Linked DNA regions of Homo sapiens. The protein of the gene in region 3 interacts with the protein of the main gene of each other region in a pairwise test. Each region holds a gene or a part of one and is shown on either strand. Other genes may lie near its edges.

Region 1 (5,797 bases), on a different chromosome or scaffold from region 3:
CACACCTCAGGGAAACTGCAGAAAGCCAAAGTCAAAGAGAAAATCTTAAAGAGCCGGGGAAAAGAAAGCAATTTTTTTTTTCTAACCAATGGAGCGGCTCCGGGACTGACAGCCAGTTCCCAATACCAACAGGAAGACAGAGCAGAGCGGCAGCATCCCGTGTGCCCGGGAAAAGGCCACCTGCCGACATTCCATCCGTGGCCCCAGTACATCTCAAGGAGCAGAAGCCAAGTCTGAGACACGAGGATTAGGGGCCAGGAAATCGGTGGGGCAGCGCGCAGGAGAATGGGATGAAAGAGCTGTTGTCTCCAGTGGGTTGGGAGAAGCAGGAGAATCCACACCCTAGATAGGAACTTGGATGGCGGGGTGGGGACGGGGTGTTATGGGGATGGGGTGTGAAGTGGGGTTAAGGGGCCCAACTCGGCTGCAGAGAGCAAGGCTGGGGAGGGACACCAGGGACCCCAGGTTCCCGAGACCAAAAGGCAGGAGGAGGAGAAACAGCCCAACCCAGATTCTTTCCACCGGTGTCTTTTATTAATGAATGCAAAATACAGTACTAACTGGCAGGGCATGCATCAGAGACAACAAGAATGCAAGCTACAGAAACCAGGAATGGAGGGCCTCCTCATGTCTGAGGTAGAGTAAGACGGTGTCAGGGGGCGGACCCGGGGGCGGAGATGAGCACCGGCCGCACTGGGGCATCATCCCGGCCCACCCGGGACGATGGGCCGTGGGAGGGCTCAGGGCGGTGTGGTGGCCACACTGCGAAGAATGGATTTTTAAAACACTTCATAGCCCCGAATTTGTTTCAGCTCCCTCTTCGTGGACACAACTTCAGGGCTCCCTTGTCACTGGCTTGCGGGGGTGGTCTCCCCACTTGCAGAGTCTGGTCTCCACAGGACACCGTCCTTCCCTTCCCTTCCAAGGGGCAGGCCCCACGCACCCTCGCCCAAAAAATAAAGGAGCTTTGTGTTGAAAACGCCAAGGCAGCCGTCCAGGGAGCTGGAGGCCAAGTGCGTTAAGAAAGACCCTTTTTCTCTATAAAAATAGTTTCGCTTTATAAAAGGGGGGATGCTCCTCTCACATGGGGGAAGGACGCGTGAAAAACGCTCTAAGTGGAGTTCCACGGGCCGGGGCCGGGTGGACACCGTGGTGTGGGGGACCCTCCCCTCAGGCCTACAGGGCTGGGGAGGAGAGGAGGTGCGGGGAGGAACAGACTCCTCGTTGTTGGCCGGGGCAGGGGAACAGCGGGGGCTGGGGAGAGGTGAGGCCGGCCCTTCTGGGGCACGTGGGCTGGCGGGGAGCGAACCACGGCCAGGCCTGCACGCAGGCGCTCAGTTGAGCAAGGTTCCGTAGAGCTGGGCCTTGGTGAGGCTGTCCTTGCGGCTCAGCCCCGAGCCACCAGTCCGCGGAAAGGCCTGCTGGGGGCTGAGGCGGGCGGCAGGATGCATTTCCGGGGAGGCCTCCATGGAGCTCGGCTCCAAGGAGTCCCTGGAACCCTGCTCGGGCTCAGGGCTGCTGGCGGTCCCACACAGCTGCACCCCGAGCCTGTCCCCGTCCCCCCCCTCGCTGGGTGCATAGCCGGGCAGTGGGTCAGCCGAGCGGCCGGGACTGAGGCTCAGGTCGCCGCCCGCCCGCAGGAAGCAGGGCTCTGCCAGGTGGCCCTGGGAGAGGTCGTCCCCCTCGGAGAAGCTGTCGGCCTTGTAGCTGGCGTAGAGCGGGCTGGCGCGGCCGTCGGCCTTCTTGCCCGGGCTGCCCCCGGCCCCGCCGTAGTAGCGTTCAGAGAAGCTGCAGGGTGAGGCGCGGCCGGCAGCGCTCACGGGGTAGGAGTAGGCGCCGATGTCCTCCACGCTCAGGGGACGCCACTGGCCCCTCATGTCCTCCCCGGGGAGCCGGGCGGTCCCCGGCTTGGCCCGCAGGCTCCACAGGTTTGGGGGCATCAGGGCCTGCTGGGGACCCGGAGAGGCCGGGAAGCGGAAGGTCTCGGCCGGGTACGGTGACATGGTCCGCCCGAAGCCTGGGGCCACTTCGGCCTCCAGCGGGGCCGCCACCGCGGCCGTGGCCTTGGCAAAGCGAGGGCTGCCCTCGTAGGTGGTGGCGGGTGGCTTGCGGTCGAAGAGCTCGTCGCGGCTGTTCAGGTAGATGGCCTGCTGCGACGCGGTCAGCGTGCTGGCCTGCGCGTGCTCCTTCTCCTCCGACGTGGCGCTGAAGCTGGAGTAGGAGCTGGACGTGGGCAGTGAGCCTGCGTAGCTGGGGAAGGCCTCATGCTGGAAGCCCGCCGGGAAGGCCGCCGCCTCGGCCTCCTCCTCCTCCTCGGCCGCGCTGTCAGTGGAGTTCTGGGCCCGCAGGAAGCCCACGTCGGTCACGGGCGCGTCCACGCTAGGCCGCCGGTCTCGCCGCCGCTCCTCCGGGCAGTAGAGGGCTGTGTCACTGCAGTAGATGTCTCCCTTGTAGGGGGGCCGCGGGCCTGGTTTCTCCACCCCGTCGCAGAAGGCCAGGTCGCGGGCGGAGGCATCGGACAGGCGGGAGGACAGGCTGGCGGGGTCCGGCTTCTCCAGCACCTTGGCAATGACGCAGGTGGGGACGCTGTCGGCGTAGGCCGGGTGGCAGAGCGGGGATGGCAGGCTGCAGCCGTGCTTCTCCATGTGCAGGCTCACGCGCTCCTGGAAATCCGAGGGCAGCTGGAACGGGTGCGAGGAGGGGGACGGCGGGTACAGGGTCACTGTTAGCATGGCAGCCCAGCCCTGGCCCTGAAGCTGAGGACTGATGTTAGCCATGACCGACAGGCAGACAGACGAACGGGGGCCTCCCGGCTTCTCAAATCACACCAGGGGGAGCCTGGATCCAGGACGCTGTACTGAACAAGCTCCCAGGGGTGTGGGTGCTGTGACTGCCTGGGGATCCTGGGTCACCTCTCCCCACCCCACTCTGATTGGGCCCAGGAGAGCCCAGAAGCTGCAGTCGCCTGGAGAAGCCGGAACCCAGGTCTGATTCAGGCCCCACTCAAGGCTCCACCCCCCGCCACCCCCACCCCACCCATTTTGTGCCCAGCGAGGGGTTGACTTGCTCTCCCAGGCCCGTGGGTTCTGTGGGTTCTACTGGGGGCATGACCCACTCCCCAGCCCCCCAGTCATGCTGCTGGAGCGCTCCTGAAGAAGACAGACTCAGATGCAACAAAGATTGAGGGCCAGGGCTGAGAGCGCCTGGTGCCATGTGGGGGTGTCCCGCTACTGTTTGATCTATTTTGTGAGTGTCTCAGGCATGGCCCAGGACCAGGGGAAAGGAACGCACAGGCCTGGCTGGGAGATTGCATGTGAGGGGAGGGTCGGGGGACGGGGTGCGCAGGGTGCGGCGACCATAGGCGGGCAGGGGTGGGCCTCTGGCCCATCTGCCCTTGGCATCAGACAGGCCTGGTTCTGGGTCCTGGCTCTGCTACCTGCCTGCCACGTGGCCTCAGCCACGCCCTCTTTCCTGAATGTTTTCTTTCTGAAATAGGCACTGCCGGTCATCGTGCCCAGCCACAGGCTCCTGCGAAGCTCCACAAAGGTCACTCTGCCGTGTCAGCGCTCAGTGGAAGCAAGGACCTGGAGCAGCCCCCCAAAGGAAACCGAGGGCAACCAGCAGCCGGGGTGGGCCAAAGGGACTCTGGTGAGGGCCAGGGGCTGCCCGGCTGCGTGAGGTGGGGTGCCTTTGGCGGCCCCTCCAATGTCATGACCCCACAGGAGCGAGGGGGACAGAGGAGGCTCAGGCTCAGCTGGCATCTTCCTCCTCAAAGATGGGAAATGGCTTTGGGGTAGCACTGGCACAAAAGGAGCCCGGTGGTCCCGGGGCGGGGTGGGCCTGGCTGCGGGGCCACGTTACCTCAGACACCTTGTGGACCCTGCCGTAGGTCTGGCTGCACTGCAGCAGCTGGGCCGCTAGATTGCAGTCCTTCCTATAGAGCTCCTAAAAGACAAGAGAAGGCGTTTGGCGCCATTCACCCCAGCCAAGGCCCCGCCGCCCTGACCAGCGCCAAGTGGCCAGCGGGGGCAGTGGTGTGCACAGGGCCTGCTGTGCGCTCAGCAGGACAAGGACCCACTGCTGGCTCCGGCCCTCTCTGGCCTCCACACTCTTGCCTGCAAAATGAGAGCCTCTTTCTGACCTGGGGCTGCCGGAGCATGGAGGGCCCTGCCGCTGCCCTAGCTGGTGCCCTTGAGCACTGCCAAGATGGGAACCTCCCACAAGGTGGGGGGCAGTGGTAGAAGAAGGAGCCCCAATGGCCCTGAGCTCCCCCAGGCTCGTAGAGCAGGCCTGGTCTCCCTGTCCCTGTCCCTCAGGCTCTCGGCGTCCTTCCAAAGATGACGGGGTGGGAGTGCCAGGCAGGAATGGGAGGCAGGATGAACCCCCAGCACCTTCCACCCCGCACTTCAGACTTGCTGCTCACAACCCTCTTCCCAGAGTGTGGTTTGGAAACAGTGTGGCTGCAGGGCTGGGCAGGGACTGGGCAGGTGTGTGACCTCAGGCCCAGGCGGGCGCTGGCTCAGCCTCCTGAGCTGAAAACAGATGCAAACAGTAGGACTCAAGGGGTGTGGCTTCGCCACTGAAAATCTCTGTTGCATGTGCCTGTGTTTGGGGCTTGCATTCCCGCCCCTCCGGGGTCCCCACTGCGAGGGCTCTGACAGCTAGCCCTGGGGTGGCCCGGAGGCCCAGTGACCCACCTGAGCTGCCCCATGGCTGCTCCTGGCAAGGGCTGGCCACAGTCCCAACCCAGCCAGCACCAGGCATCCTGCTGTCCAGGCAAGGCTGTCTCTGACACAGGCACCTTTCTGTCCCCCCACCACGGCCCTGGAGCCTCCCTCACTGAAGGCTGGTGCCCCCAACTTGGCCTACACGGTGGAGGGCGTCGGAGTCGCCAAACCCCTCTCAGTGCCTCCCTGGGCCTCCTAGGAACAGAACAGCACGGCTGCCTGAGAGCTGAGAACTGACCCCTTGTATGACCCCAGTCGACCGGCTGCCCCTGGCACCAGAGGGCTGCAGGCACTGCCCAGCCAGCCCAGGTCTGCCACTGAGCCCCACCAGCCACAGCCAGGAGTGGCTGCCACTGGGAAGCCGGTGCCATGCCCATAGCCCCTGGGGCACCTGGCTGAGTACCCAAGCCCCTGGGCTGTCCATGTCTGAGGTGGCCAGCTCTGGGACAGCTGGGAGCCTTTCCTGAGCAGCCGCAGCTGCTGGCTCGGGGAGGAAATGCTCACGGGACACTCTGGCAGAGCGAACAGGTGGAGGCAAGCACTCTGGCCACCCAGGGCCCGGGGCTGCTGGAGTCGGAGTCCCGAGGTTGAGTTCTGGCTCCGTCTGCGAGACACCACCTGGGTCACCTGGGAAACCACTCAAGCTGGCCATGCCTTAGTTTCCTCATGTGCACCAACCCTGCAGAGAGGGCCCCAGGACTAGTGTCCACTTAGGTAAGGGGCCTGGCCTTGTCACGTTAAGAAGCACCTCCTGTCCCGAGCCCATGTCCTCCTGTCCTCCTGTTAGAGCCACACTCCTTAGAAGGGTGGCCTGTGTCTGGAACCACCGCTCCACTCCACCACCGACCTCCAGTTCCCCAAATCCCAATGCCTCTCCTTGGCCCTCTGACCTGGTCTCTCAGCAGCTGGCAAGCCAGCCGGCCAGGGCATTGACTGCAGCCCCCTTCTCAAGTGGTTGTTGGGCCACCATACTCGCCTGGTGTCCCCCAGCCTACTGGCCACTCCCTCCCAGGCATCCTTGCTGGTCCCTACTCCGTCCTGGGGCCTCCCTGCTTCTCATCTGCATGCTG
Region 2 (7,026 bases), on a different chromosome or scaffold from region 3:
TGACCTCTATACACCGAGAGGGTTTTTAAAGTTGAATGACAAGGGCACAGCTACAGGAACGACCCCAGGAAGAAGTCCCGTGACGGCTGGAGTCAGAAGCCCCTGAAACAAGCACCTCCCCAGTGAGGCCCCACCGTGTACCCAGGGTGCTCATGACCACCCCCAGGCTCTGCAGCCTGGCCAGAGACCACCGAGGCCCCAGGAGGGGCTTCAGAGATGGAGATGAAGCTGCATCTCCGAGCCATGAGGCCCAGTGGGGCCCGGACAGAGGGAGCCTGGTGTTCACACACCACATCTGTTTTCCAACAAAGTCAAAACACGGTGGGTCCTTTCAGAAGATCCCCAGCACCCGACACTTCAACTCAGACTCCAGGCGTCGGGCGAGGCCAGACCCAGGAGATCACAGCCTGTAGCGGGGACAGAAAGGTGTGCACTCCTGGAAGCGTCCAGCAACTTCTCTCTTGTTCAAGTGGCACCCCAGGTCCAGAGCGGGGCTTGTGGGGAGAGGAGCACGGGGGCTTCGTCCTCGGAGGCGCGGAGCTCCAAGCAAGGGCTGAGCAGCAGCTGGGAGTCTCCCGGAGGCCAGAACATTACTGGCCCCGTGTGCACATGCGCCTTCTTGGAGTCCCAAAAGGCAGATACCACGTATCCCACCAAATATCTACTTACAGATTGGGAAATTGAGGCAAAAAGCTCAGGTAATTCCCACAAGGCCACAGAGCTGGTAAGCGGTGGGGTTGAGATTCAGTGGCAATGGGCCGAGGTCTCCTGGGTGTGGTGTGGACCCTGATGGTGAGCAGGGTGGGGACCTCCTCGAGCCCCCATGGAATCAGGCTGCTTACCATCACCTTCTCCGTGGCACCGGCCCCTACCACCCTGCTGAAGACCCTCCTGGGCCTCTCCTCACGTCTCCTTTTCCTGCCCCTCTCTCAGGAGAGCTTTCCAAGCTGATGGCCTGACTGTGCCACCCCAACCTGGCATTTGAAGGCCTTCAGGAGTGAGGCCATGTCCATAACCCGCGTCTCCACTGAACCCTACGCCAGCCCCTACACGAGCCCCAAGCCTGGCTGCTGCTTTACGACACACCTCCATACAGCCCCTGCCCTTCACCCCTGCCCAGGGAAATTTACTGGGCACAGCGCCTTGCCCGCTGCCCCACAGCAAAGAATGCTGTCCTGCCAGACACTACAGACAGCAGTGGACACGCATTCTTCCAGAACCAGCCCAGATCCTGCCTCTAGGGTGAGTTGCCTGATGGGTCTTGACTCCGATCTCCTACCCCGTGCAACACGGGGAGGGTGCTGGCCCTGCCTGCCCTGGCTCCTCAAGAGCAGGCTGGGGTTGCCTTTCCCGAGGGGTCCCCACTACACCAGCCCCAGTGTCGGAGGGGTTGGGGGTCAGCGCAGAGGGTGGCACGTACCAAAGCCAATGAGGCCCAGCGTCTCCCCACGGATGCGGGCCGCTCCCGAGGCCACCTCGCGGATCTGCTCCACGCTCTGAACCCGCGTGCCTTCCCGCAGTGCCTGGTACAGCCACGTGTTCCTCCGGTACAGGTTGAGGATGTGGCAGATGGTAGAGTCCGCTGTCTCTTCCACGGCTGCAGACGGGATGTTGCACACGGCAATTCCTGAAAGGGATGAGGCCAAGGCCGGAGATGAGAAAACCTCAAGATCAGTGGGGAAGCCCCAGGGCTCCCAGCCCGCCCTCCTGAGACTCGGTTGTTGGCACCGGGGGAGGCCCACCTTATCGTCTAGCAGACGCGGGGCTGGGCACGTGGGCGGTAGGCCCTCTGGCTCTGATGCATGGGAAGCTCTAGCCCCAACATCTACCCCTCCCTCCCAAGGAGGACTTTTGCTCCAGGACGTGGCTCATGACCAACCCAACTCCTATGGCTGATTTTGGGCCTGACTGGCTTCCTCCTGGGCTTGCACTGAGTCCCAAGAAAGGACCCGGAGTGGCAGGAAGCCAGTGGGCCTCAGACCAGACTCCTCCAAGTGGACCCCACTCAGCCTCAAACCCCTCAGGGTCTCCCTCATGGAGCTGGCAGGGTGACAAAGAATGGCTTTTGGTTTTAAGCTATGCTAACAGTTTGATGCAAAAAACATACGTTTTAAACATACTGGTTTTAAAAAAACACCTCCACCCCCACACGGATGCAAGGGCTGGCCCCGGGAACGGAACCGATGGCCGAAGCGTGTGCACAATCGCCCTGTGGTCATGTGCTCAGCACCCTGCTCTGCTGGGAAGAACTCAGAGCAGACAGGATGCCCTCCCTGCCCCGTGGAGCAGCCTTCAGGTCAGGGCCGAGGGTGGCTTGGGGTGAGCCCTCTGGCCCCACACGAGCTGCAGAGACCAGGGTCAAGTATCTCCCAGCACAAAGCAGCTGTGGCATGGAGAGTTAACCCAAGTCATAGGCAGAAAGGGCCCTGCCATTTACCCTCCTCAGCCAGAGGGTGTCTGGGGAAGAATGAATGACTGCCAGATACAACAGGGGTGCAAGTAGGCAGAGGGCCAGGCTGGGAACGGCCCCTCCCTACACCCGACAGGTGGAGATCCAGAGGCCTGCTTGCAGCAGAGACCAGAGGGGCCGAGCCAGGGGCGGGGCCCCAGAGGGTGGGCTCAGCAGCCAGCCTGTGGCTCCCAGTTGAGCTCTCTGAGGAGGGGTGTGGCTATCTGGGCATCACGTCAGCCCAAGTGAAATGGTTCCCTCCTAATCCCAGCTTTGGGACCCTTAGGAGAGTGTCTCTCCCAGCAAGGGGTGCCCAAGGCACTGGGACAGGGCCACCTTTAAGGCAGCCCAGGATTCCTCTATCTTAAGTCCTGAAGATTGGGGTGGGGACAGATTGGGGTGGGGACGGCAATCACCAAGGCAGCTTCTTCGGCTCTACTGGACAGGAAACAAGACCAGTGGGTGCCACAAACCCACTTTCTAGATGGCTGCGTGGCTGTCTCCCCACAAGGGCCACCCCTAGGTCTAGGGCCTTGAGAGTGACCCGCTTAGCAAGACACACAGCTCAGAGAAGGTGAAGCCACTGTGAGCAGGTCACCCACCCACCCAACGTGGCCACTGAGGGCTCCTCTGGGCCACCGACCCCTGCCAAGGGACCAGTGTGGTTGACGGTGACTGAGGCCGACCAACTTTCCCACGAGCTGGATGCCAGGAATCTTGCAGGAAACTGGCCTCATTCATTTGAAATAGCTCAGCAGAGAAGCTGGGGCTTGATCACATGCCATGTTATTATTAAGTCAGACAGACTGAGGCTGATGCCAGAGGTTCAAGAAAATCTTTGGCGGCTGGGACAATTTTCATTCCTCGGGCAGGCTAAAGCCCAGCAGGGAGGCCCCGCAGCAGAATCACCCTCAAGGACGCTGGCTCCGTGCTGCTGCCGGGGCTGGCTCGGCAGTGCTGCCTGGCGTCAACAGCAGCACCTCCTCCTAGGAGATGAGCTGATGCTGGCTGGGAGACCCCACAAGGCCACGTGTGTAAAGGCACCCGGGTGGGTGGGTGGCACAAAAAGGCAGGTTGAGGCAGGACATCTGGTCAGTCTTCTCACCGAACTTGGACATTCAGCTCCGTGGTTCCACTGCTCACCGGAGTGCAGAGTCCCAGGACGGGGAGATGGTGCAGGAGGAAGAGCTGCAGCCACTGCCTGGGATGGCAGAACCTTCCCACCCAGACCGCGGCGGCGCCACTGCCAGGAACCTCCATAACCCTCACCGCTCTCTCGGAGGGAGCATCTTCTTAGCTGTCCTCTATCGCTCTGTGGATGCAGCCTCCCTTCTGGATGAGTCAAGCTGATCCTTCAAGTGCCACACGATGGGTGGCTCTGATACTCGCAGGCTGGGCCTCCCAGCATCCACGGAGCCTGGAAAACGGCCCCAAAGAGGCAAGCTGCTTTTCTCTCACGGTCAGTGCCATCGTGCTTTAATCCCTTCATGACTGCCGCTGGCAAGGAAACCACATAAACCAGCTTGCTAGAGGCGGCGGGGGTGGGGAGGGGTGTAGGGCCCTCTCGAGGTCTTCCCGGCTCGTGGGGAGAAGTGCAGGTGAGCAGCTTCCTCAAGCCTTGCCCTGCTCTTGCCGTGAAGCGCTGACTCTCGCCTGTCATTCCAGGGCTGACAGCTCAGAGCCTTGCGATCCCAGAAGGTGTCACCAGAGGCCTAGTGTGCTGCCTCGTGCAACATGGAGGGCCTTGTTTTCTGGGCCTGCGAGGGACCCTCTTTCATCAGGAGAGGGCCTGCCTGCAGCCACCTGCCGCTCCCAGCCCTCAGCACAAAAGGCCCGTTGACCGCATGATGTGGGGAATATGCATTCGGAGACAAAGGACGTCTGGACAGAGGCTCATTTTCCGCCTCCAGAGTCTACATTCGAAAAGTGCCCTTTAAAAGGGCCCCGCAGATGTCTTCCAAGCGCCCTTATCAGATGGGACCAGGATCAATGAAAATCCACCACTCACAGCCCTTCTACATTTTCCAAAACCGCAGTCCCTGGTCCTGGTCGTCTTCTGTGGGTCTCAGAACTCAGGGAACACAACCTCCCATCTCGGCCCTCCCAGGCCCCCTGTCATTGAGGCCTTGGTGCCTTTCTGGCCCCACTGCCTGTGCGGGGCACTTCTAGAAATGGAGAAATAGGAAGTTCCACAGGCAAGGACCTCCCCTCTCTCCCTGGAAAGCAGCGTCTGGTCCAGCCGAGGAAGGGCAGGGTCAGCACCCGTATGGGCCTGGGAGCTGTGTGGTGAGGGGCCGACGTGCTGGAGAAGCAAGAGGTGCGGGGGACAAGGATTTGAGAGCCCCTGGCACATGAAGCTGTATTCTCCTCTGCTGTTGAAACTTGGGATTTCAGCTCTACCCAGAGCACAAAGGACATTTGTTTTCAAACAAAAATATCCTTGTTTGTGCCAGGGAAAGATGGAAAATTTTAGTTTATATTAAACACGCCTTTGAAGACTCACATCTTCTGGAGTGTCTTTGTTCCAACAGAGGGGCTCGGAAGGACGCCGTGGCTGGTAGCAAGTGAGGGGTGTGGGGAGGGTGAGGGGTGGATGTGTGAAGCTGCTGCTTCCAGGACCCTAAGGGGTGTGGAATCTGAGTGACTCTCTCTCCTTCCCTGGCCTTTTGCTTTGGGATTTGCCCGTGGGGCAGCCCCACCCCACTGCGTCCTGACCCCTGTGAGTGTACGGGCAGCTCCCTGCTCGCCCGGCTCCCCAGCCCTGCTCCTGACACCAAGACCCACCCAGTGCTTCCGGTACCTGGGTGCTGCCCCGACTGGCCGTGAAGGATTCAACTAAGATTCTGACCCATACACTCCATGCCCCAGGCTAAGGCTGTGGAGAGACAGCTGGAGCCCATGGGGGTGGCCTCCCTGAAAACGTGGCCGGTGGTGCCCGAGAGCAGGATTCTCAGATGTATGTAACACTCCGCTCACACACAGAGCCCATCTGACACCCAGCCCGTCCCGGAAGCACCGGGGCCCACTGGGGCCTTAGCCGATGGGAGAGAGGTGGGGAAATAGCGCCTGGGCTATTCCTGGAGCACAGGAAGAGCTGTTCCAAGGCCAGGCTGCTGCCTTGGAATTCATGGTGCCTCATGAATTTGGGGCACCTCAGCACTCGTAAGGCAGAGTACAGCCCCCACCCCCAAAATGCAGGGGTGGCGTGTTCCAAACACAGAGCAAGCACAGTGCCCACCTGGCCCTCTCCCGAGGACGCTCGATGCCAGCGGTCTGCTTCTTGTGCCTCTGCACTCAGCACTCACGAGCTCACACGGGGTGCTGGGCAGAGGCCCCCCTCAACATGCACCCCCAGCCGCAAGTGCATGGGGCCGATAAGCAGCTTTGAAGCCCCCAACTCTGGGTTCCCGCCTGCTGCCTCTGCTTTTCTTCGGAAGCCTCTGTCATCAACTGTGTTGGGCAGGGGCCCACCTGCTTTGGTGCTGACCTGGACCACATGCTGCTAAGGCTGCCCTCCCAGAACGGGAGGCCCAGGTTCCCATGTGGACAGGGGCCTAGAGCTGTGCACACGGCAGGGGCAGTTTAGGGGACACACACGGCAGGGGTCATTTAGGGGACGCACCCAGCAGGGGTGGTTTAGAGGACATGTGGCCAGTCGCATTCTCCCCTCTGGAGGCGGCACTGGGTGTCTCCAAATTGAGCCTGTGCCAGCTGGGTGTTGCTCTGAGGGCAGAGATGCCTCACAGCCCCGCAGACCCCACACAAGGGCCAGCAGGGACTATCCTACCTGTGTCATGTGAAGGCAGGGCCGCAAGGTGCTCCACAGCCCGGCCTGGAGGCAGCCACCTTGCTACAGCCAGAAGCGGCTGCTCCGTGGTCCCAGTTCCAGCTGCTTCTCCAAGCCCACCCGAGCAGGGCCCACAGAGCTCCGGACAACTCCAGGCAGCCAGCGCTGCCTCGCACTCACCGAGCTCGCCGGCAGCCTTGATGTCCACGTTGTCATAGCCACTGCCTATCCGCACGATCACTCTCAGGGCCTTGAACTTCTCCAGGTCCTCCCTGGTGAGGGTGATGGTGTGGTACATCATGGCGCCCACGGCTTCGTTTAGAACCTGCGTGGGAACAGAGCACAGGGTCGGAGCCCCACCCCGTGCAGCCCACCGGCACCACTTGGCCTGGCCCCCTGGCCCTATCACCCTTGAACCTGAGGCAGAGGAGTTCAGCAGGAAAGCAGGGAACAGGGGTTCTGGGGCCTGCCGGTGACTTGGGGCGATCTAATGGGGGGATGCTGGGGAGGAAACTGCCCAAGGTCAGTGCAGGCCCCGGCCGGGCAGGGTGGGCCCACCTTCTCGTGGATTTCCTGCGTCGACTGCGCGTCACAGAAGGCCACAGTGGCCAGGTCCTTCAGGATGGGCATCTCCACAGTGCAGTCGCGGCCGTCCAGCAGCGCCACCAGGGGGCGGGGGTGCAGGGGGCCGTTCATGATCTGGGGGCGGATACCTGCCAGGAGGGAAGGGGTGAGCACAGTGGGTGGGTGGCTGGGGCCACAGGGTGCGTGGAGGGGCAGCTCCCCACTC
Region 3 (7,575 bases):
CACACAGAGTGTGCACTACACAACTCCAGCAGCTGCCAGGCACAAGGACTCCAATGTGAATGGTGCTCCCTAAAGCTGGGCAGAATACAATCTACACAACTAGGTGCCACAGCTCTGATGCTCGTGTAATTCGAAATCAATAAAAGGGAGTAGGGAAGATAGAGAATGGACTGCAAACCAGCATAAGGGAACATTCTGGGGTGATGGAAATTTCTTGATTGGAATGGTGGTTACAAAGTATACAGCAGTCTCCCCTCAGAAATAAACAATTTGTAAGTTTTAAGTTGTGTACCATTCTGAATAGCGTGACGAAATTTTGTGCCATCCCACTCTGTCCCACCTGGGATATGAACTATCCCTTTCTCCAGCATATCCACACTGCATAAGCCACCTTCTGGTTACTCACTTAGTAGCTGTCTCAATGATCAGATTGACTGTCATGGTATCACAGTGCTTGTGTTCAAGTGACCACTGTTTTACTTAATAATAAAGTGCAAGAGTAGTGATGCTGGCAATTGGGATATGCCACAGAGAAGCCAAACATATGCCTAAGAGAAGTCATTAATCTCTCATGGCAACTAATTTATAAGTTAAAACTTTATCATAGATACTTAAGTATAGGGAAAAAACAGTCTATATAGGGTTTGGAATTAACTGTGGCTTCAGGCATCCACTGGTGCTCTTGGAACATATCCCTGAGGCTAATGGGGGGACTACTGTACACATTTTTCCAAAACTCATCCAACCGCACACGGGAAATCTGTGCATTTTATTTTGTCAACTATACGTCAAAAAGTTGGTTTTAAAATAAATACATAAACAAAATATCATTGAGAGAGCCTGGAATAAGGCACCCAATATTGTAGAACCTAGGCACCTCTCAACAAGAGACCTGCTGGCTGTACAGCCCTGAAACAGGAGAAATAAATTTACTTCTTCAAGGCTTCCTATACAATGCCAGATTTTGATTATTACTTATTTTTCACACGAAGAAACTAAGGCCCTGAGAGAGTAACATAAAGACATAAAATAAACAATAAGTTGAAATTCTCTTGGTTCTGAGTCTAATTTTCTAACCATAGGTAGAAATTTGTCTCTCGGGCATAGTGGACATCCAAAAACTCTGCCAGCACTACCTTGACTGCACAACCCCTTTCAAAGGCAATTCCACTTATGCATGATAAAAATCCTTAGAGAACTCATAAAAGGTCAAGTTTTAATTTGGCAGACAAAGTAACCCAACAGGCACTGCAACCCAGGTTACTGAAACAGCAGCCTGGAGCTCCAGAGTTCAGAGATTCAACCAAGGCAGAGCACAGGTAGAATTCCAGCCCTTACAGAAAAGCAGAGGCACCAACAGCCTCGCACTACAGGTCTAAGACCCAAGAACCAGGACCAAAATGAAAAAGTGTTCTCTAGACAACACTACCCTCTTCCTTCTCAAGTAATAGAAAAAGCCAATGGGAGAAGGAACAAAATGGGATGATCTCAAGCAACAGGCCAAGGAGCAAGCTCTTGAAGGCCAACATGAAAGACACATGGGAAAGTGGTAGCATGGCCACAGAAACCAAGACCTCGCCGCCTTAGCCATTGCTTTAACGTGCCCAGACCTCAGAACCGGGGTTGCCTCGCATAGCAAAAAAAAAAAAAAAAAAAAAAAAAAAAAAAGAGGCAGAGAGAGAGAACTTGTGGAACAGGAGAAATCCAGCAACCTTCCCTAACACTAGAGTGACTGACACTGCTCCATGGCAAATGTGGCCAAACCTTGCTTGTCCATTCATTCATGCAATAGACACTTATGGCTCAACCGCTGTGAGCCAGGCAACATTCTGAAGATTTAGCAGTCAATAGTCATGGAGCTTATTTCTAGATGGGAAGGAAGGAAACTTCCTTTCTTTCCAAACGTCTTTTTTCCCCATCTAAGAGCCCCCTTTAAATGTTACCCGTAGGAGCCTTCAAAACTCTCCCAAATTTCTCCCATAGGCTTCTTTTGACCTTTCTGCTTTATCCCCAAAACCACGCAATTTATGGCTCCAATTTCCCAATACTGGGAAAAGACAAAAGAGACCGAAAGTAAATAGGGCATGCGACATAAAATTCGACGCTCCTTTGTATTTCATGTGCATATCTTCACAGCCACACTGTCAGCACCTCAATAACATGACGGTGTTCCATACTATTTCGTGGCCCCAGTGCTGACTACGGGTCTCTACCTACGGTAGCTGGAAGGTCTTCCTAATCCCAAGGCCTGGCACAGGAATTTAAGGGCAAGTATTCGTCACCGGCATCCTCGTCTCGGGACACTTCTTTCCTGTCCAGGGTGACCTCCTGGACAGGTTCGCTATTAGGCGCCTCGGGAAACAGTGATTTGGGGTGATCTGAAATAAATACCCTTCCCTCTGCCAGGGCCTGCCCGCCTCACCTGCCCTCTGCCAGGACCTGCCTCACTCGCCCCTTCAGCACCTAACGCAGAGCCGCCTCCAGGCGAGCCGGGCTCGGGCAGCATCAGCCCGGCGCCGGGCCCCCGCTCGCGCCCGTGCCCCGGCGCGTTCCGGACCCCGATACCCCTCCCGGCCCGGGATCCGCCGCATCCCCTCTGCCTGTCCCTCCGGGGCTAGCCGCGCCGTCCCACCTCGCAGCCGCGCGCGGTGCAGCGGCCCCGGCTCCCCGCGCCCTCCCCGACTCCTGCAGCGCCGCACCCGCAGGCTCCCGGGTCCCCAGTCCCGGCGCAGCGCGAGCTGCCGTCCCGCACCTCGCGGGCGCGAGGCTCCAGCCCAGCTCGTCTCCCCACAGCCCCGGCGGCGGCCGCAGACCCCCACCTTGCTCACTTCCCCGCCGGAGCAGGGGTCGTCGGGAAGGTCTCCTGCGGCCTCACTCCTCCGCACGCTCCGGCCCAGCCCCCTCGGCTGAGGCAGCGGCAGCGCCTACTCAGGCCCCGGAGCCACCCCCGCGGCGAACGTTCGCAGCGCCCGGCTCGCGCCGCTTCTCCGCCCGGCACGCGCAGCGCCCGCCCCCGGCGCGAGGGCGCGAGGGCGGAGGGCGGAGGGCGGATGGGCGGGCGCGCGCCCAGCGCGAGCGCGCGGCCGGGGGCGTGGCTTCCGCGCGCGGGGAGGGGGCGGGAGCGGCCGAGCAACCCCCCTCCACCCCGCCCCCGCGGCCGCGCCCCGCCCACCGGTCGCCGGCGGGTTCCGGGCAGGCGGGAAGCTGGCTCCATCCAGGCTTCTCCCGCTCGCTGGCGTCGGGCCGGGTGTCTTTCCATCCGCAGGTATCCGTCGGCGGGGTGCCCGGCCCGACGTGACTACCCGACAAAGAATGCAAAGAGCCACCCCGTGAATCATTCTCCGCGCCTGGGTCACAAGCCTGTGCCCGAGTGACCCCCGTGAACTCCGCAAGCTAGCCCAGCCGCGGCGTGCGCCCCGCGCTGCACCAGGTGCCTGTGGGCGCACGATCACGGTCACGGCGCCTGGGCTCGAGGCGCCCCAAACTTAGCGGGGAAAACAGCCATGTACACAACCAAGTCCGATGACCCGTGCAGAGCCAAGCCACGGTGCGATGCTGGCACAGAAGCTAGAGACGACTTCTGCTTGGACGCCGCAGAGGGCTAGAGGCGGCATTTATGGTCAACCTCGAAGGAAGAAAAAGAAGTCCTAGGAGGAAAAAGGGAGGACATTAGGGCTGGGAAAACAGTTTGGGCAAAGGAGCCGGGGCAGCCAGGTTTACCATCTCAGCACCAGCTTTTTTGTGTTTTACTGTTATCCATCTTTTATAGAATTCTTTCCAAACTGTGAAATACAGGAGATGGTGCCAAATTAGAATATAGCAAGGACTTTTTGAATGGTTCAAATGGTCATTCTCAACGTTACTTAAGACTCAAAACAGCAACGTCCTTTGGGGGCTATTGGTCAATGATGAAGGCTGTAAGCTCCAGAGCTAAGCGACCCCAGGCCTGCATGCTGGGAGTATGGTTTTCACTGCTTTTTGGCACCTTACGGTAAGGCAGATCGTGCCACCTCCTGCTGCTGCCTGCCTGCCTGCCTGCCTGCCTTTAGAACACCCTCTTCCTCCTCCTCTCCTCTTTTTATTTTTAAACTCCTATGGTGAAGGAAATGCTGATAACCAACTTTGTTAAATGGGAACAAATAGGTTCCTCAAAAGATGAGCATTTTCTGGCCTGCCGCGGAGGCTCACGCCTGTAATCCCAGCACTTTGGGAGGCTGAGGCAGACGGATCACTTGAGGTCAGGGGTTCGAGACCAGCCTGGCCAACATGGCGAAACTCTGTCTCTACTAAAAATACAAAAATTAGCCGGGCGTGGTGGTGTACGCCGTAATCCCAGCTACTTGGGAGGCTGAGGCAGGAGAATCGCCTGAACCTAGGAGGCAGAGGTTGCAGTGAGTCGAGATCGCACCACTGTACTCCAAGTCTGGGCAAGAGAGTGAGACTCCGTCTCAAAATAAATAAATAAAGATGGACATTTTACCTTTTACCTTACATATATGAAGTGTGTGAATATTTTCATGCTTGAGGAGACTTATCTCTTGTAGGCACGGTCTTGGCTATGTTTTGTACATATTAAGATACTCAGAATACAGGTAAGAGACCTCTAGCTTCTTTATTTGCCCTTTTTGAGCACCCCCTATGTGGAAGGCATTGAGAGGGGTAAAACATTGATTCTGTTCTTTGGAGAAAAGATGTGTAAATAATATAAAATAAATGTGTAAATATCGCTTGATATGTTCGGTTTATTGATTGAAACCAAGGTAATTTCAATATGTGGACTAGACAATCCTAAACCATAAGGGAATTAAATACTTCAAGGACACTGTATTGGCATCTCTCCATCTCTGTTCTCTATTTCTTCACCTCCCACATCCTCAGAAAACTTTTCAAACACCTTTCAATCATTCTCCCCCTCTCACTCCAAAATTACCAACTTCTCTTTACTTGTCTCTTTCCTTCATCATCTATTCATGTTTAAGCTTTTCCTGTCCTCAAGAAAAAGGAAGAAACCCTTTCGCTGTCCCTCTAGATTCTGCTTCAGTTACTAGTCCCTCTCTGAGTTTTCCTTCATAAATATCTTGAAAGTCATCTACCCTCATCTCTACCTCCTCAGCAGCTCCTCAGCTCCTCAAACCTATGTAGTTTCTGTCCACACCACATCACTGCATTGCTCTCAGTCATGAATGGCTTGTTGGATCCTAAATACCACAAGCCATCTCTGAGTCCTCATATTGTTAGAACTCTCAGTGACATTGAACAGAGTAGCCCACTCTTTCTGAAACTCCCTTGGTGTCATGGCATGACTCCTGTCTTAACCCCTGTGACCACTTCTCAGTTTCACAGATTCTCTCCTCAGCTGGTCTCACGCCACACATTCTCCCTGGACCATTCCATCCACTCCGCTTCTTTATCTACCGCATATCAGCAACTCCCAAGTGCACTCTCTCTAGCTCAGGCCACTCATCTGGGTTCCTTATTCACAAAAGCCCGCCAGACTTCTCCACCTGGGTGTCCTAGAGGTACCCCACGTTCTACATGTCTAAACTACTGTCCACCCAGTTGACCAATTCAGAAACTGGGGGGCCATTCTTGATTCCTTCTTCTCCCACCACCCCTCTGCCCTGACTCCATACCCAACAACCACTAAGTCCCATTGATGCTTCCTCATAAATAAATAACTAGAATCTTTCCCTCTTAGCCCACCTCCCCTAAACTAATGCAGCAGCTTTGTTTGTTTGTTCTGGGACGGAGTCTCGCTCTGTCACCCAGGCTGGAGTGCAGTGGCACGATCTTGGCTCACTGCAACCTCCGCCTCCCAGGTTCACGCGATTCTCCTGCCTCAGCCTCCTGAGTAGCTGGGATTACAGATGCCCATCATCATGCCTGGCTAATTTTTATATTTTTAGTTAGAGACGGGGTTTCACCATGTGGACCAGCCTGGTCTCAAACTCCTGGCCTCAAGTGATCCCCACCTGCCTTGGCCTCCCAAAGTACTGGGATTACAGGCGTGAGCCACTGCGCCTGGCCATGCAGCAGCTTTTTATGTGGTCTCCCTGCCAGTCTTGCTGCTTCCAATCCATCTTCCATGCTGCAGATTAGAGAAAGCTTTCAAAAATTTACCACCCCTGGTGTCACTGTCTAGCACTTCCCTTAATCTAGCCCTTGCCCATTCTCTCCAATCCATCGTCTATTGCTTCCTCCACACACACCATACAAACTCCTGGAATGTTTCCACTTCCCCTTGGCTCCACACCTTTGTGCTTGTTTCTGTCTCTTTTTGGAATGTCATTTGAATACAAGCAAAGAATATCCAACATATGTGTCACTGGGGTGCTACATATGTCGAAGCTATAATCTAAGAATCTTTCTGAAAATAAGATATAAACCTATAAGGCCTACATTTACCTGGGAAAATTGCCAGAGGCTGAACTCTGAGAGCTATGCTATTTACAGTGTTAAACTGATAATAATAATAATCTTCAAGGTCTGCAGGTACAAAGTTCAAATTGTTTAAAAGGGTAAGAAAATTGGACTGCAGGCCAGGTGCGGTGGCTCAAACCTGTAATCCCAGCACTTTGGGAGGCTGAGGTGGGCAGATCACCTGAGGTCAGGAGTTCGAGACCAGCCTGGCTAACATGGTGAAACCCTGTTTCTCCTAAAAATGCACAAAATTAGCCGGGTGTGGTGGTGCACGCCTGTGATCCCAGCTACTCGGGAGGCTGAGGCAGGAGAATCGCTTGAACCCGGGAGGCGGAGGTTGCAGTGAGCCGATATTGCGCCATTGCACTCCAGCTTGGGCAACAAGAGCGAAAATCTGCCTCAAAAAAAAAAAAAAAGAAAGAAAAGAAAATTGGGCTGCGGGACTTTAAACGTGGCTGCCAATTTTTTTTTTTATCATTCCTCTCCATCCAGGATGGCCTTACTGAATTGCTCGGCCAATAGAACATGCAATATTCTGGGATTTCTAATCCCAGTTCACAAAAAGTCTTTAAGTGTCCACTTGAGTTTGGGTCTTTGGTCTTTGGGAACACTTTTTTTTTTTTTTTTTTTTTTTTTTTGAGATGGACTTTCACTCTTTCACCCAGGCTGGAGTGCAGTGGCACGATCTCTGCTCACTGCAACCTCTGCCTTCCGGTTTCAAGCGATTCTCCTGCCTCCGCCTCCCGAGTAGCTGGGACTACAGGTACCCACCACCACACCTGGCTAATTTTTGTATTTTTAGTAGAGACGGGGTTTCACCATATTGGCCAGGCTGGTCTTGAACTCCTGACCTCATGCCACCCGCCTCAGCCTCCAAAGGTGCTGAGATTACAGGCGTGAGCCACCGTGCCTGGCCAGAACACTTATTCTTAAAGCCCCAAGCTGCTATGTAAAATATGTAACTCCCCAGAAAGGTCCTACATGGAGAAGGAGAGGACCTAGCTGATTCTTGCTGGTATGAGTGAAATCGTCATGAAAGCCCTACATCAGCAGAATACCACTGAGTGACCTCAGTTGAAGCCACAGGGAACAGAAGAATCATCCAGCCAAGCCCTACCCAAATTCCTAACTCCAAAGACTGTGAAATTATAATTA
Region 4 (7,026 bases), on a different chromosome or scaffold from region 3:
TCAGTAATTGTGCTGGGACATTTTGTTTTCCATATTTTAAAAAGTATATAAATTTTTTAAAATGTCATCTAGTTTGTGCATTTACCCTGTCATATTTGCACGGCAGTAAAACCTCCTGCTGGTGTATTTCTCTAAGCATATCCCCATTGTTACGTGACAAATGACTTTATATATGGAGAATAGAACAGAAGGTCTCTAGATTAAAAGACACTGAGCATAGTTGAGGACAAGAGGGACTAAATAAAAATACACTAAATACGGCCAGGCACAATGGCTTACGCCTGTAATCACAGCACTCTGGGAGGCTGAGGTGAGGAGTTTGAGCCTGGGAGTTTGAGGCTACAGTGAGCTATGATCATGCCACTGCACTCCAGCCTGGACAACGTAGCGAGACTTTGTCTCTACAAAAACTTTAAAAAGTACTAAATATCATGAAATACCTCTCCAAGCCTTTACCCCTACTTGGCTCCTAGGATACTGACAGCCTTGCTTACGTTATACTCTCTAGAGTGGTATAATATGGGGAATATGATTAACTCAAGAAAAAAAAAAAAGATACAGACTTTAGACCTCCAATTAAACAGCCCAATCAGATCATCCTGTAGTGAGGCTCAGAGTTGGCAAGCTTCATACATACACGGTTTCTAGTCATTGTAGAGATCCACTCTGAAGGGTGAGCAGCAGTTAAAGATGATAGACATCTGACCCTCTATATAGACCTAAATAAATAGGAAAAAGCAACTTGAGGCCGGGCATGGTGGCTCAGGCCTGTAATCCCAATACTTTGGAAGGCCGAGGCTGGATGATCACTTGAGGTCAGGAATTTGAGACCAGCCTGGCCAACATGATGAAACCCCATCCCTACTGAAAATACAAAAATTAGCTGGTTGTGGTAGCGGGCACCTGTAATCCCAGCTATTCAGAAGGTTGAGGCATGAGAATCGCTTGAACCTGGGAGGTAGAGGTTGCAGTGAGCCGAGATCGTGCCACTGCACTCCAGCCTGGGTGACAGAATGACATTCTGTCTCAAAAAGAAAAAAAAAAAGGAAAAGAAAAAGCAACTTGAATGAAATGGAGATAATACAGAGAGATACGAACTTATAAAAATCATTAAGCATATCCTTAAAGAGATAAAAGATAATACTGTAGCCATGAACAAAAACAAGAAGGTGTAAAAAGGTAAACATTCAGAGAACTAGAAACAGCACTTGGAAATAAACACATCATGGCGGGGAAAAGAAAAAAGAAAAACCAAAGAGTTGATAATAGGCCAGGTGTGGTGGCTCATGCCTGTAATCCCAGCACTTGGGAGGCCAAGGCAGTGGATCACCTGAGGTCAGGAGTTCAATAGCAGCCTGACCAACATGGTGAAACCCCATCTCTACTAAAAATACAAAAATCAGCCAGATGTGGTGGCAGACACCTGTAATTCCAGTTACTTGGGAGCCTGAGTCATGAGAATCACTTGAACCCGAGAGGCAGAGGCTGCAGTGAGCCAAGATGTGCGCCATTGCACTCCAGCCTGGGGGACAAGAGTGAGACTCCATCTCAAAAAAAAAAAAAAAAAAAAGAGGAGTTGATCAAGTTGAAATATTTCAGAAACTAGAGCAAGTATAGAAATAGATGTGACTGGGTGCTGTGGCTCACGCCTGTAATCCCAGCACTTTGAGAGGCCAAGGCAGGTGGATCACAAGGTCAGGAGATTGAAACCATCCTGGCTAACATGGTGAAACCCTGTCTGTACTAAAGATACAAAAAATTAGCCGGGTGTGGTGGTGGGCACCTGTAGTCCCAGCTGCTTGGGAGGCTGAGGCAGGAGAATGGCGTGAACCCGGGAGGTGGAGCTTGCAGTAAGCCAAGATCGCACCATTGCACTCTAGCCTGGGCGACACAACAAAACTCTGTCTCAAAAAAAAAAAAAAAAAAGAGATGCAAGAGTGAAAAAAACAAAAACAAAAACATAGAGGATCATCAGTTCAGGACACCCTCTGTCCAAGTAATAGGATTCCCAGAAAGAACAGAAAAATACTGGAGGATAATCATCAAAGAAATAATTTTAAAAAATCTCCCAGAACTGAAGAACGTCAGTTTCCAGATTGAAAAGGCCCATCAAGTGGCTAACTCAATAGATGAAAATAACCCACACCATGGCAAATTGCTGTAAAAACAGAACACTGGGAACAAAGAGAAGATCCTAAAAGCTTTCAGCAAGAATGGGAAAAGGGTCACATACAAAGGATCAGGGATTGGAATGGCATTAGATTTTTAAAGGCTAACACTGAAAATTAAAAGACATGGAGGCTGGGTGCCATGGCACATGCCTCTAATCCCAGCACTCTGGGAGGCCAAGATGGGCAGATCCCTTGAGCTCAGGAGTTTGAGACCAGCCTGGGCAACATAGTGAGACCCCATCTACAAAAAAAAATTTAAAAATTAGCCAGGTGTAGGTACATGCCTGTAGTCCAGCTACTTAGGAGGCTGAGGCAGGAGGGTTGCTTGAGCTCAGGGGATCAAGGCTGTAGTCAACCATGATTGTGCCACCACTGCACTCCAGCCTGGGCTATAGAGTAAGACCCTGTCTCAAAAATAAAATACGACAATGGAACAATGCCTTAACCCCTGAGGAAGAATTATTTTCAACCTGGAATTCTATATCCTGCCAAACTATCAATAGTGTGAGGAAAGATTAATAACTTTTTAAAAATAATTTCAACTTTTATTTTATCTTTTTTTTTTTTTTTTTTTTTTTGTGACGGAGTCTCGCTGTTGCCCAGGCTGGAGTGCAGTGGCGCGATCTCGGCTCACTGCAGGCTCCGCCCCCCAGGTTCACGCCATTCTCCTGCCTCAACCTCCCGAGTAGCTGAGACTACAGGCGCCCGCCACCTCGCCCAGCTAATTTTTTGTATTTTTAGTAGAGACGGGGTTTCACCGTGTTAGCCAGGATGGTCTCTATCTCCTGACCTCGTGATCCACCCGCCTCGGCCTCCCAAAGTGCTGGGATTACAGGCATGAGCCACCACGCTCGGCCCTATTTTATCTTATTTGAGAGAAATCTCATTCTGTCACCCAGGCTGGGTGCAGTGGCACCACCATGGATCACTGCAGCCTTGACCCCCCAGGCTCAAGCAATCCTCTCACCTCAGCCTCCCGAGGAGCTGGGTCTACAGGCACATACCACCACACCTGACTAATTTTTAAATTTTTTGTAGAGACAGTGTCTCACTCTGTTACCTAGGCTGATCTCAAACTCCTAGACTCAAGTGATCCTCCTCTCTTGGCCTCTCCAAGTGCTGGAATTACAGGCAAGAGCCACCATGCCCAGCCCAACTTTTATTTTAGATTCGGAGGGGGGTACCTGCGCAGGTTTGTTACATGGGTATATCACATGATTCTGAGATTTGGGATACTGTTGAACCCATCACCCAGGAAGTGAGCATAGTACCCAACAAATAATTTTTCAATCCTTGCCCCCACCTCTCTCCCTCCTCCAACAGTCCCCAGTGTCTATCATTACCATCTTTATGTTCATATACCCAATGTTTAGCTCCCATTTATAAGTTAGAACATGCAGTATTTGGTTTTCTGCTCTTGCATTAATTCACTTAGGATTATAGCCTCCAGTTGCATACATGTTGCTGCAAAGGACATGATTTCATTATATCTTATGGATGTGTAATAACATTTTAAAACATGCAAAGCTTCAATAAATTTACCTCTTATGCCAACTTTCTCAGGATGCTACTAGAGGGAAAGAACCATTCACCCAAATGAAGGAGTAAATGAAAAAAGAAGATATGGAATCTAAGAAACGAGGGATCCAGCTAAGGAAAGAGGCAAAGGAATTACCAAGATGATAATGGAGGGAGATCCCTGGAGGGCAATTGTGCAGCAAGGACAGATGGAAGCAGAGCAGAGGGCTCCTTAAGAGATGCCTCTCAGAAGATGGAATAGATAGAACGTGTCATGCATTCAAAAGCCTGGAGAGGGAAATTCAGAGAATTGAGGGAGTGTTTGAGGTTGACTTGCTGATAACTACATAGCAAACTAGGCAATATAATAATAATAATAATTCTAAGGATAAAATGTTGTAAGAAATAAAAAGTAACTATAGTAAACTACATGGCTTAGCTGTGAAGAGCATTTCCAAATCCTAATAAAGTAAACACTGAGTAATTTTATTGCCTATTAGGAGGATGGAAGATGGGAAGGGTATCTGTATGGCAGGGGAGTGGGGAGTGGGATGAAAGTTAAATCCTGCCTGGGCGTGGTGGTTCACGCCTTGTAATCCCGGCACTTTGGAAGTCCAAGGTGGGCAGATTATTTGAGGTCAGGAGTTTGAGACCAGCCTGGCTAACCTGGTGATGCCCTGTCTCTACTAAAAATACAAAAATTAGCCAGGCGTGGTAGGTGATACTTGTAATCCCAGCTACTCAGCAGGCTGAGGCAAGAGAATCGCTTGAACCCTGGAGGCGGAGGTTGCAGTGAGCTAAGATGGCGCCATTGCACTCCAGCCTGGGCAACAAGAGAGAAACTCTGTCTCAAAAAAGAAAAAAGAAAGTTAAGTCCCTAATCTTATATAGTGTGGGAAATCAATAGAAAATGCCTGAAATTTAAATACCAAGAAATAGCAATATAAATATGGAGATTAGGAGGTAAATACCAAAATAAACAACTAAATAAATAATAATAGTTGTTTCTGGGAAGTAGGACCAGGATGGGAGAACTGTTCATGTTCATAATCTTGTGGAACTGTTTGCCTCTTTAATCTCTGTGCATCTGTTACTTTGATTAGAAATAAAACTGGGCTGGGTGTGGTGGCTCACACCTGTAATCCCAGCACTTTTGGAAGAATTGCTTTGAGCCTAGGAGTTTGAGACCAACCTGGGCAACAAGGTGAGACCTTGTCTGTACAAAAAATAAAATTAGCCAGGTGTGGTGCACGCCTGTGGTCTTAGCTCCTTGGGAGGTTGAGGTGAGAGAATCGCTTGAGACCAGGAGATGGAGGCTGTAGTGAGCCATGACTGTGCCACTGCACTCTAGCCTGAGTGACAGAACAAGACCCTGTCTCAAAAAATAATAATAAAAGTAAAACTAAATAAAACTAGTTTTAAAAAGTCATTTGTGGCAGCACCTTGGGTTCACAGAGCAGAATGCTAGAGGCGAAACTATAGAGATGGGCGAGAGCCACATGTTACAGGCTTTTGAATGCCAGTTGCTAAAATGTTTAGATTTCATTCTCTAAGAGGAGGGCGGAGTTCCCTGCTATTGTAGATGTTCGGATTCGGCACTCTCTAAGAGCAGTGCAATGCCTATAAAGGCTCTTGAGCAGGGAGAGACAGGTTCAGACTTGTGCTTAGGGAAGGTAACAGTGCATCTGAGCTGGAACGGACGCTTGAGATTACCCTGTAAGTCAAATTTACTTCCAGTACAGACAGGTAGACTGGTGTGTACAGGCAAGAAGGCCTGAATGCCCAGCCAGTGGGATTCTGATCCTTCTAAGCTCTGGCCAACCCTTTCCCCTCTCGGTGGCTGCTACCAATGCCCTGAAAAGACTAGGGAACCAGGTTAGCTCTCTTTATTCCCCAGCTCCTGCCTCCTTTTGGCCCAATCTACTTCCTGATTAACACCCTATCTTGCTATTCTTTGTTTCTATGTCTTTCTGGTGAATATGGGCAGGCTCAATAGTCAGTACCCTGTGGCTGGGCATGGTGGCTCATGCCTGTAATTCCAGCACTTTGGGAGGCTGAGGTGGGCGGATCACCTAAGGTCAAGGGTTTGAGACCAGCCTGACCAACATGGTGAAACCTGTCTCTACTAAAAATACAAAATTAGCTGGGTGTGGTGGTACACGCCTGTAATCCCAGCTAATTGGGAGACTGAGGCAGGAGAATCGCTTGAACCCAGGAGGCGGAGGTTGCGGTGAGCTGAGATCGCGCCATTGCACTCCATCCTGGACAACAAGAGCGAAACTCCATTTCAAAAAAAAAAAAAAAGAAGTACCCTAAATATGAAGTTCAAAGCTTAATAGGATTGGATTTTAATACTTAACATTTACTGAGACCTTCCTCTGTGCTAGGCACTGTGCTGAGTACTTAATAGACAGCATTTCAGAATCCTCACAGCTACCCTGTGAGGTAAGTGATTTAATCCTGTTTTACAAACAAAGAGACTGAGGCTCAAAGAAGATATGTCTAATCAGTGGTAGAGCTGAAATGTTAGGCAGCAGTCTGTCTGCTTCTGAAGCCTACACTGCAAGCCGTTATAATTCCATCCGTCTTAAAGTGAAACATGGTTGGCTGAACCACAAGGTAGTGGCCTGTGGAAACGCTGGGGAAACCCATGCCCCAGAACTGGGACTAATTCCTTCTCCCACTCCCCCAGGCTTACCTGCGAGCCATCGATGTGAAGATCCTGCAGCAGCTGGTGACCTTGAATGAGGGCATCGAGGCAGTGCGCTGGCTGTTGGAGGAGCGGGGGACGTTGACCAGTCATTGCAGCAGCCTCACCAGCAGTCAATATAGCCTGACAGGCGGGAGCCCAGGCCGCTCAAGGCGAGGCAGCTGGGACAGCCTGCCAGACACCAGCACCACCGACCGGCTGGACAGTGTCTCTATTGGCAGCTTCCTGGACACAGTGGCCCCCAGCGAGCTGGATGAACAGGGCCCACCTGGGGCTCCACGTTCCGAGATGGACTGGGCAAAAGTTATAGCTGGTGGAGAGAGGGCCAGGACTGAGGTGGATGTGGCAGCCACCAGGCTAGGGAGCTTGAGAGCTGTGTGGAAGCCCCCAGGGGAGAGGCTTCAAGGTGGACCACCTGAGTCACCAGAGGATGAGAGTGCCAAGCTGGGCTTCGAGGCCCACTGGTTCTGGGAGCAGTGCCAGGATGATGTGACCTTCTTGTAACAACTATTCCACCCTTTTGTAATCCTGTGGCTCTTTTATCCATTAGATGTGGTCTCCCCCAAAATTGATTCTCCCTCAGTCTGAGACTAGGAAGAGGCTGCACTGAAATCAGTTACCATGGAA

What was found.
Region 1: the proteins of DTNB (region 3) and BEGAIN interact in binary tests that used the Homo sapiens proteins (3 or more experiments, as listed by UniProt).
Region 2: the proteins of DTNB (region 3) and CTBP2 interact in binary tests that used the Homo sapiens proteins (3 or more experiments, as listed by UniProt).
Region 4: the proteins of DTNB (region 3) and LURAP1 interact in binary tests that used the Homo sapiens proteins (3 or more experiments, as listed by UniProt).

Annotation. Positions count from the first base shown.
Region 1 is NC_000014.9:100,536,635-100,542,431, forward strand, and holds the end of BEGAIN (brain-enriched guanylate kinase-associated protein), read right to left. Parts: exon of another isoform or gene 3,946-5,797; coding exon 3,862-3,945; exon of another isoform or gene 3,496-3,861; intron 2,986-3,495; exon of another isoform or gene 2,682-2,985; coding exon 1,335-2,681; 3' UTR 513-1,334; downstream 1-512. UniProt on the Homo sapiens protein: May sustain the structure of the postsynaptic density (PSD).
Region 2 is NC_000010.11:124,996,544-125,003,569, forward strand, and holds part of CTBP2 (C-terminal-binding protein 2), read right to left. Parts: intron 6,950-7,026; coding exon 6,795-6,949; intron 6,562-6,794; coding exon 6,417-6,561; intron 4,952-6,416; exon of another isoform or gene 4,115-4,951; intron 3,909-4,114; exon of another isoform or gene 3,309-3,908; intron 1,628-3,308; coding exon 1,421-1,627; intron 1-1,420. UniProt on the Homo sapiens protein: Corepressor targeting diverse transcription regulators. Functions in brown adipose tissue (BAT) differentiation. Isoform 2 probably acts as a scaffold for specialized synapses.
Region 3 is NC_000002.12:25,670,567-25,678,141, forward strand, and holds the start of DTNB (dystrobrevin beta), read right to left. Parts: upstream 3,012-7,575; 5' UTR 2,820-3,011; intron 1-2,819.
Region 4 is NC_000001.11:46,213,318-46,220,343, forward strand, and holds part of LURAP1 (leucine rich adaptor protein 1), read left to right. Parts: intron 1-6,381; coding exon 6,382-6,903; 3' UTR 6,904-7,026. UniProt on the Homo sapiens protein: Acts as an activator of the canonical NF-kappa-B pathway and drive the production of pro-inflammatory cytokines. Promotes the antigen (Ag)-presenting and priming function of dendritic cells via the canonical NF-kappa-B pathway.